2 linked regions of the Homo sapiens genome follow. The protein of the gene in region 2 purifies or fractionates together with the protein of the main gene of each other region. This does not show direct contact. Each region holds a gene or a part of one and is shown on either strand. Other genes may lie near its edges.

The links. Proteins that work in one complex are often made in the same cells at the same time.
Region 1: the proteins of PNLIP (region 2) and SUMF1 purify together in Homo sapiens (affinity purification with mass spectrometry; 2 studies listed by BioGRID and IntAct, with this or other methods). This does not show direct contact.

The regions. Positions count from the first base shown.
Region 1 is NC_000003.12:4,453,536-4,457,294, reverse strand, and holds part of SUMF1 (formylglycine-generating enzyme isoform 1 precursor), read left to right. Parts: intron 1-3,759.
Region 2 is NC_000010.11:116,555,903-116,559,661, forward strand, and holds part of PNLIP (pancreatic triacylglycerol lipase precursor), read left to right. Parts: intron 1-97; coding exon 98-216; intron 217-3,251; coding exon 3,252-3,381; intron 3,382-3,759. UniProt on the Homo sapiens protein: Plays an important role in fat metabolism.

The sequences.
Region 1 (3,759 bases), on a different chromosome or scaffold from region 2:
TTAATTTCTTAATATCTTTTTCAGATAGTTTGTCATTAGTATAAAGAAATGCTGGCTGGGTGTGGTAACTCATGCCTGTAATCCCAGCACTTTGGGAGGCTGAGGTGGGTGGATCACCTGAGGTCAGGAGATTGAGACCATCCTGGCTAACATGGTGAAACCCTGTCTCTACTAAAAAAAACAAAACAAAACAAAAAAAATATATATATATACACACACGTATATATATATATATACACACACGTATATATATATACACACACACGTATATATATGTACACACACGTATATATATACACACACGTATATATATATACACACACGTATATATATACACACACGTATATATGTACACACACGTATATATATACACACACACGTATATAGATATACACACACATATATATACACACACATATAGATATACACACACATATATATACACACACGTATATATATACACGTATATATACACACACACGTATATATATACACGTATATATACACACACACGTATATATGTGTATATATACACACACACGTATATATGTGTGTATATATACACACGTATATATATGTATATATATACGTATATATATATACACACATATATATATACACGTATATATATATATACACACACATATATATATATACACGTATATATATATATATATTAGCCTGGTGTGGTGGCGGGTGCCTGTACTCCCAGCTACTCAGGAGGCTGAGGCAGGAGAATGGCATGAGCCCAGGAGGCAGAGTTTGCAGTGAGCCGAGATCGTGCTACTGCACTCCAGCCTGGGCAACAGAGTAAGACTCCGTCTCAAAAAAAAAAAAAAACAAAGAAAAACATGGCATCTACAGTCAGGGACAACATAACGTCTTTGTTTCCAGCTTGGATGCTGTTTCTTTCTTTCTCTTGCCTAATTGCTCTGTCTAGTATGTCCGGTATTACATGGAATAGAAGTGGCAAGAGTATGCATCCTTGGCTTGTTCTGAATCTAACAGGCAAAGGTTTCCATTTTTCCCCATTGAGTATAATGTTAGCTGTGGGCTTTTCATATATGACTCATGTTAAGGTACATTCCTTCAATGCCTAACTTGTCAAGAGTTTTTCTCATGAAAAGATGTTGAATTTTATCAATGCCTTTGCATATATTGAGGTGAACATTTGGTTTTGTCCTTCATTCTGCTAACATGGTATATCACATTTGTAGTTTGCATATGTTGAATCATCCTTTGATCCTAGGGATAAACCCCACTTAATTTTGGTATATGATCCCTTTAATGTGCTGTTGAATTCACTTTGCTAGTATTTTGTTAGAATGTTTGCATCTATGTTCATTAGGGATATTGGCCTGTATTTTTTTTTCTTCTAGTAGTATTCTTGTCTGGCTTTGGTGTCAGTGTAATGCTGGTATCATAAAATGAGTTTGGAAGTGTTTCCTCTTCTTCAATTTTATGGAAGAATTTGAGAAGGATTGGTATTAGTTCTTCTTTAAATTAGAATTCTGCCATGAAGCCATCTGGTTCTGGGCTTTTCTTGATGGAAAATTATTATTATTATTATTATTATTTGAAACGGAGTCTTGCTGTGTCGCCCAGGCTGGAGTACAGTGGTGCAATCTCAGCTCACTGCAACCTCCACCTCCTGGGTTCCAGTGATTCTCCTGCCTCAGCCTCCCAAGTGGCTGGGATTACAGGCGTGTGCCACAACACCCGGCTAATTTTTTGTATTTTTAGTAGAGACGGGGTTTCACCGTGTTGGCCAGGCTGGCCTGAAATTCTTGACCTCAGGTGATCCACCTGCCTCGGCCTCCCAAAGTGCTAGGATTACAGGTGTGAGCCACTGCACCTGGCCAATTTTTAAAATTATTTATTCAGTTTCCTTATTTGTTATCAGTCTGTTCAGATTTTCTACTTTTTCTTGATTCAGTCTGGGTAGGCTGTATGTTTCTAGGAATTTATTCATTTTTTTCAAGGTTATCAAATTTGTAGATATATAATTGTTTATAAGTAGTTTCTTATGATCCGTTTTATTCTGTGATATTGAACCCTTGTTTATAGATGAGGAACTTGACAATTCCTAAGCTGCTGAGGAGTCTATTAATTGGCTCACTCAAATGATTTGAAAATAAGACATTGTGTCTGTAAAGAGTGTATTTCTGACAGATGGTATGGTTGAAGGCCTGTGGTTTTTGAAAAAAGTTGAGATAGAATTCATATAGAATGCAATACACTCTTTCAACATGTACAATTCAGTGGTTTTTAATATAGTTATGAGGTGTTACAACTATCACTGCCTAATTCCAGAATACTTCATCATCTCAAGAAGAAACTCTATGCCCATTAGCAATCATTCCCCATTCCTGCCTCCCCCTAGCCTCTGGCAACCACTAATCTACTTTGTGTCTCTTTGGATTTGCCTATTCTGGACATTTCATATGAATAGATTCATACAATATGTGGCCCTTTGTGATTGGATTCTTTCACTTAATATAGTATTTTCAAGGTTCACGCATGTTGTAGCATGAACCAATACTTATTTATGTCTGAATATTATTCCATTTTATAGATATACCAAATTTTGTTTACTTATTCATCAGCTGATATACATTTGGATTGTTTCTGCTTTTTGGCTATTATGAATAATGCTGCTATGAATGTTTTTGTACAAGTTTTTACATGGACATATGTTTTTATTTCTCTTGGGTATATACCTAGGAGAACTGCAGGGTCATATAACTCTTCGTTTAGCTTTTTGAGAAACTGCCAGACTGTTTTCCAAAGCAGCTGAACTATTTTACATTCCTACCAGCAATATGTGAGGGTTCCAATTTCTTCACATCCTCATCAGCACTTGTTGTTGTGTCTTTTTTGTTATAGCCATGCTAGTGATCATGAAGTGGAACCTCATTATAGTTTTGATTTGCATTTCCCTAATGACTCATGATGTTGAGCATGGACCTGCATTTTTTAACTGAAAATTTTCAGTGTCATCCTCAGATCCTGTGCTCAGTGTTGGGAATAGAGCTGTGAATAAGGCAGCCCCAATTGCTGTCTTCTTGGAGTTTAGAGTTCATGTGGGAAGGTAGATAGGAACAAAGTAGTTGCAATTAGGGTTTTTATAAGGAATTATACAAACAGCCCCTTAGTAAACTTTAAAACTTTCTATTTTAGTGAGGTAAGCCTTTTTCATGATTGTTGGAGGCCAAAATTCATGCAGTGGTTATTTAAAGATATTATAGATTGCATTTTTACATGTGCTTTTAAAAATAATTCAAAAGAAACAAAAGCATATGCGAATAAAAAATGTATAAAGAAAAAAGTGGGGCTGGGCACAATGGCTCATAATCCCAGCAGTTTGGAAGGCCGAGGTGGGAGGATCACTTGAGCGCAGGAGTTGCAGACCAACCTTGGCAACATAGTGAGACCTCATCACTTAAAAAAAAAATCAGCTTGGCCGGGCGCAGTGGCTCACACCTGTAATCCTAGCACTTTGGGAGGCCGAGGCGGGTGGATCACCTGAGGTCAGGAGTTCAAGACCAGCCTGGCCAACTTGGTGAAAACCTGTCTCTGCTAAAAATACAAAAATTAGCCGGGCATGGTGGTGGGCGCCTGTAATCCCAGCTACTCAGGAGGCTGAGGCAGGAGAATCACTTGGACCCGGGAGGTGGAGGTTGCAGTGAGCCGTGATTGTGCCACTGTACTCCAGCCTGGGGCGACAGAGCAAGACTCCGTCTCAAAAAAAAAAAAAAA
Region 2 (3,759 bases):
TAATTAGAGAAATCTATTCAACCACTATATTCTGAATATGACGTTAACTTGGAAAAATAAAATCTGTCCTTGATGTGTAATTGTGTCTGATTCAAAGGGACTCGAGACTTTGCGGCCTGTAATCACTTAAGAAGCTACAAATATTACACTGATAGCATCGTCAACCCTGATGGCTTTGCTGGATTCCCCTGTGCCTCTTACAACGTCTTCACTGCAGTAAGTAGACTCCACCTTCCGCATAAAGAATTTTGTGACTGTCACTTCTCATGACTGGTGTGCTTTCCTATACATGACATCATTCAATGAATGTTTATACTTTTGAACTTATACATGCCTTTAATTATATGTATTTAAATAGTGATAAATTAGAGCACTTTAGAGAAATGAGCTTGTACATGGAAATGTCCTGTTTACTTTCATTTGTGTTACTTTTGTATGCATTGGGTAAATGTCCAAACTTGTTTTAGAAATAACCCTAAACAGACAAAAAATAATTAGTCTATGGAAATCTGAGCAATATCTGTAGGATGCTGATGAACATGGAAAAATTTTCTTAAATGCTGACCTTTCTAACTATTAATATATAATTATAGACATGTGGACATTTCTGTGCAATTTCATAATGGCCAAAATTTTTTTTTGAATTTTCATCTTATTTGGTATTCTCTTGATATCTTGGTTGAATTATTTATTTAATTTTACTTTAAGTTCCAGGATACTAGTGCAGAACGTGCAGGTTTGTTACATAGGTAAATGTGTGCTGTAGTGGCTTCCTCTTGGTTGAATTCTTTATATGTGATCTCAAATATGACATATCTATTGTCTGGGTTTTTTTTTTTATAAAATTGACTTTGCTTTGTACCATAAATTTTTGAAATAAAAATTTAAAACCTATGGATTTAATAAGAAAATTTCCAGTAACAAATGTGCCAGCTGAAGTCACAATTACCCAGGATATATACCTTAGTGATTAAGAGAGAGGATGCAAATCTTGGTTTCACCATTAAATAGCTGAATATCTTTGGGCAAAACAGTTCTCCAAGAAGTTTCTTCATGTATAAATGTAAATACTGATGGCAAACTTAACATATTTGGTGAGAGGACTTAATGAGAATACATACGTTAATTGCTTAGCCCAGAGCAAAAAAATATAATAGCATTCAATTAATGTTAGCTATTATGGGAGAGGGAGTACATATATTATTCACACTACAGCTTCCATATGCAGTGAGACAGAAGATCCCTTCTTTATTTATTTTAACTTTATTTTTATTTTCTTCCCCAATACCCAACAATAAGTAATGGGGGAAAAAAATAAAGAAGCAAACACAAAAGCCTCAGGTTTCATTCAGTTAAAACTTAGTCTAATTCAACAATATAAACAGTTCTTTCAAGTGATACTCATCACTTGTATAAGAAAAAATGTCTCAGTCTTGCAGATTTCTTCACCTTTGCACTCCCTTCTAAGCTTCTCTCCAAGTGAGTGCTGGGGCCAGGTGATCTGGTGGTGGTGGTCGATGTGTGTTCAGCAGAGGAAATGAATTGGGAGTCCATGGGTGTAAAGTTTTTGGGCTCCTTTCGACTCTGGGTAATAGCCTTGCCTGTTTTATTGATGGGCACACTGCTGTATTTAGAGATGACGTCTTGGGCTTGTCTATTCTTCTGGCTCTAGCAATGCCCTCAGAGAGCTTTGGCCATTTCTTCCCGGCTGGCTTAGGCAACACCTGGATTTTGTTGAATGCCAACCCTGGGACTGTGATAAGCCCATAATATGGTCCATTGAGCCAGGAGTCCACCACTTGCCTTCACTGTAGAGTAGCCCTGCCCCTCACAGTGGGAATTGGGACACTTGTCCTGCCAACTTGGTTCCTCCCTCTCCATCTCTTTTTCCCAGAAGTCCTTGGTCCAGAAATAAGGGGTATTTTCCTATACGAATATGTCTTCTCCAGGTATCAGCCTCACAGTAAGCCTTAGGCTAGCTGGGGCATTTTCTCTTCACATAGAGAAAATTCCGGGATCTGAATCCTTCAGGGCTTGATATGCTAAACATGAGCTAAAACAATTGAAAAAAGCCGGGCGCGGTGGCTCATGCCTGTAATCCCAGCACTTTGGGAGGCCGAGGCAGGTGGATCAGGAAGTCAAGATCGAGACCATCCTGGCTAACATTTTTAAACCTTTAAAAAAAAAAAAGAATTGAAAAAAGCCTGACTTTTGAGCCTATTGTCCTCCTAATAAATTCTATTTTGTTTATCAGAAGCTGATTATAATCTCTGTTCTACTTATGCAATCTTTCTTTCTTTTTTTTTTTTTTTTGAGACGGAGTCTCGCTCTGTCACCCAGGCTGGAGTGCAGTGGCGCTGTCTTGGCTCACTGCAAGCTCCACCTCTTGGGTTCACACCATCCTGCCTCAGCCTCCCAAGTAGCTGGGACTACAGGCGCCCGCCACCATGCCCGGCTAATTTTTTGTATTTTTAGTAGAGACGGGGTTTCACCATGTTAGCCAGGATGGTCTTGATCTCCTGACCTCGTGATCCTCCAGCCTTGGCCTCCCAAAGTGCTGGGATTACAGGTGTGAGCCACCATGCACAGCCAACTTATGCAATCTTTCTAAAATAAATTCTAGCTGTAAGTAGATGAATGTCTTGGGAGCAAATTAGGCAAAAGAGAAAAAATAGAAGATAGATACACACACACACACACACACACATATTCTCTCATTGTATGATTTGTTTTTTTTTTGAGATGGAGTCTTGCTCTCTTGCCCAAGGCTTAAGTGCAATAGTGCAGCCTCGGCTCACTGCAACCTCTGCCTCCTGGATTCAAGCGATTCTCCTGCCTCAGCCTCCAGAGTAGCTAGGATTACAGGCGCCTGCCACCATGCTCAACTAATTTTTGCATTTTTAGTAGAGACGGGGTTTCACCATGTTGGTCAGGCTGGTCTCGAACTCCTGACCTCTGGTGATCCACCTGCCTCAGCCTCCCAAAGTGCTGGGATTACAAGCGTGAGCCACCACGCCCGGCTCGTTGTAGATTTTTATAGTATTGTGTTGTTTGACAGTGAAGTTGGTGACTTACTGTTGTGAATAATGAAATGCATTGTTAATCTTTGCTGCTGAGACACTATTAAAGTCCCCATTTATCATCAGAACAGAACTGGCTTTAGAATATTTGAATGGCGACAACATGTAGGAAATATGGTACACAACTAAAAGATAGGGCATCCTCATTCATCATTTGTTTGTTTTCACTAGAACAAGTGTTTCCCTTGTCCAAGTGGAGGCTGCCCACAGATGGGTCACTATGCTGATAGATATCCTGGGAAAACAAATGATGTGGGCCAGAAATTTTATCTAGACACTGGTGATGCCAGTAATTTTGCACGTAAGTTTCTGTTTTCTGTATCTTATATTCTTATTGCTATATATTTTATTATTATGTCCACTGAAAATGTGCATACTTGCTTTTCTATACAAAAGCTTTAAACACCCCCTCTGCAAGGTGGAAAAATGCTCAATGCTATGTTCAAGGTAATTATAGCTAATTAGGGTGGCAGAACGGAGTTTGGGTCCTGGACTCTTAATGCTGCAAAAATAAGTTTCTTCATATTTGATTCTGGTGCTGAATTCAGAAGGCTTTCTCTGCTCCAGCCTCTTTATATTCAGTCAAAAGTTTCACTGAACAAAATTCTGAGATTTTTGTAAAAGCAGAAAAGTAATCTAGGAGAGAGAGATGGCAGAGGTTGTGAGAATGGAAAGACAT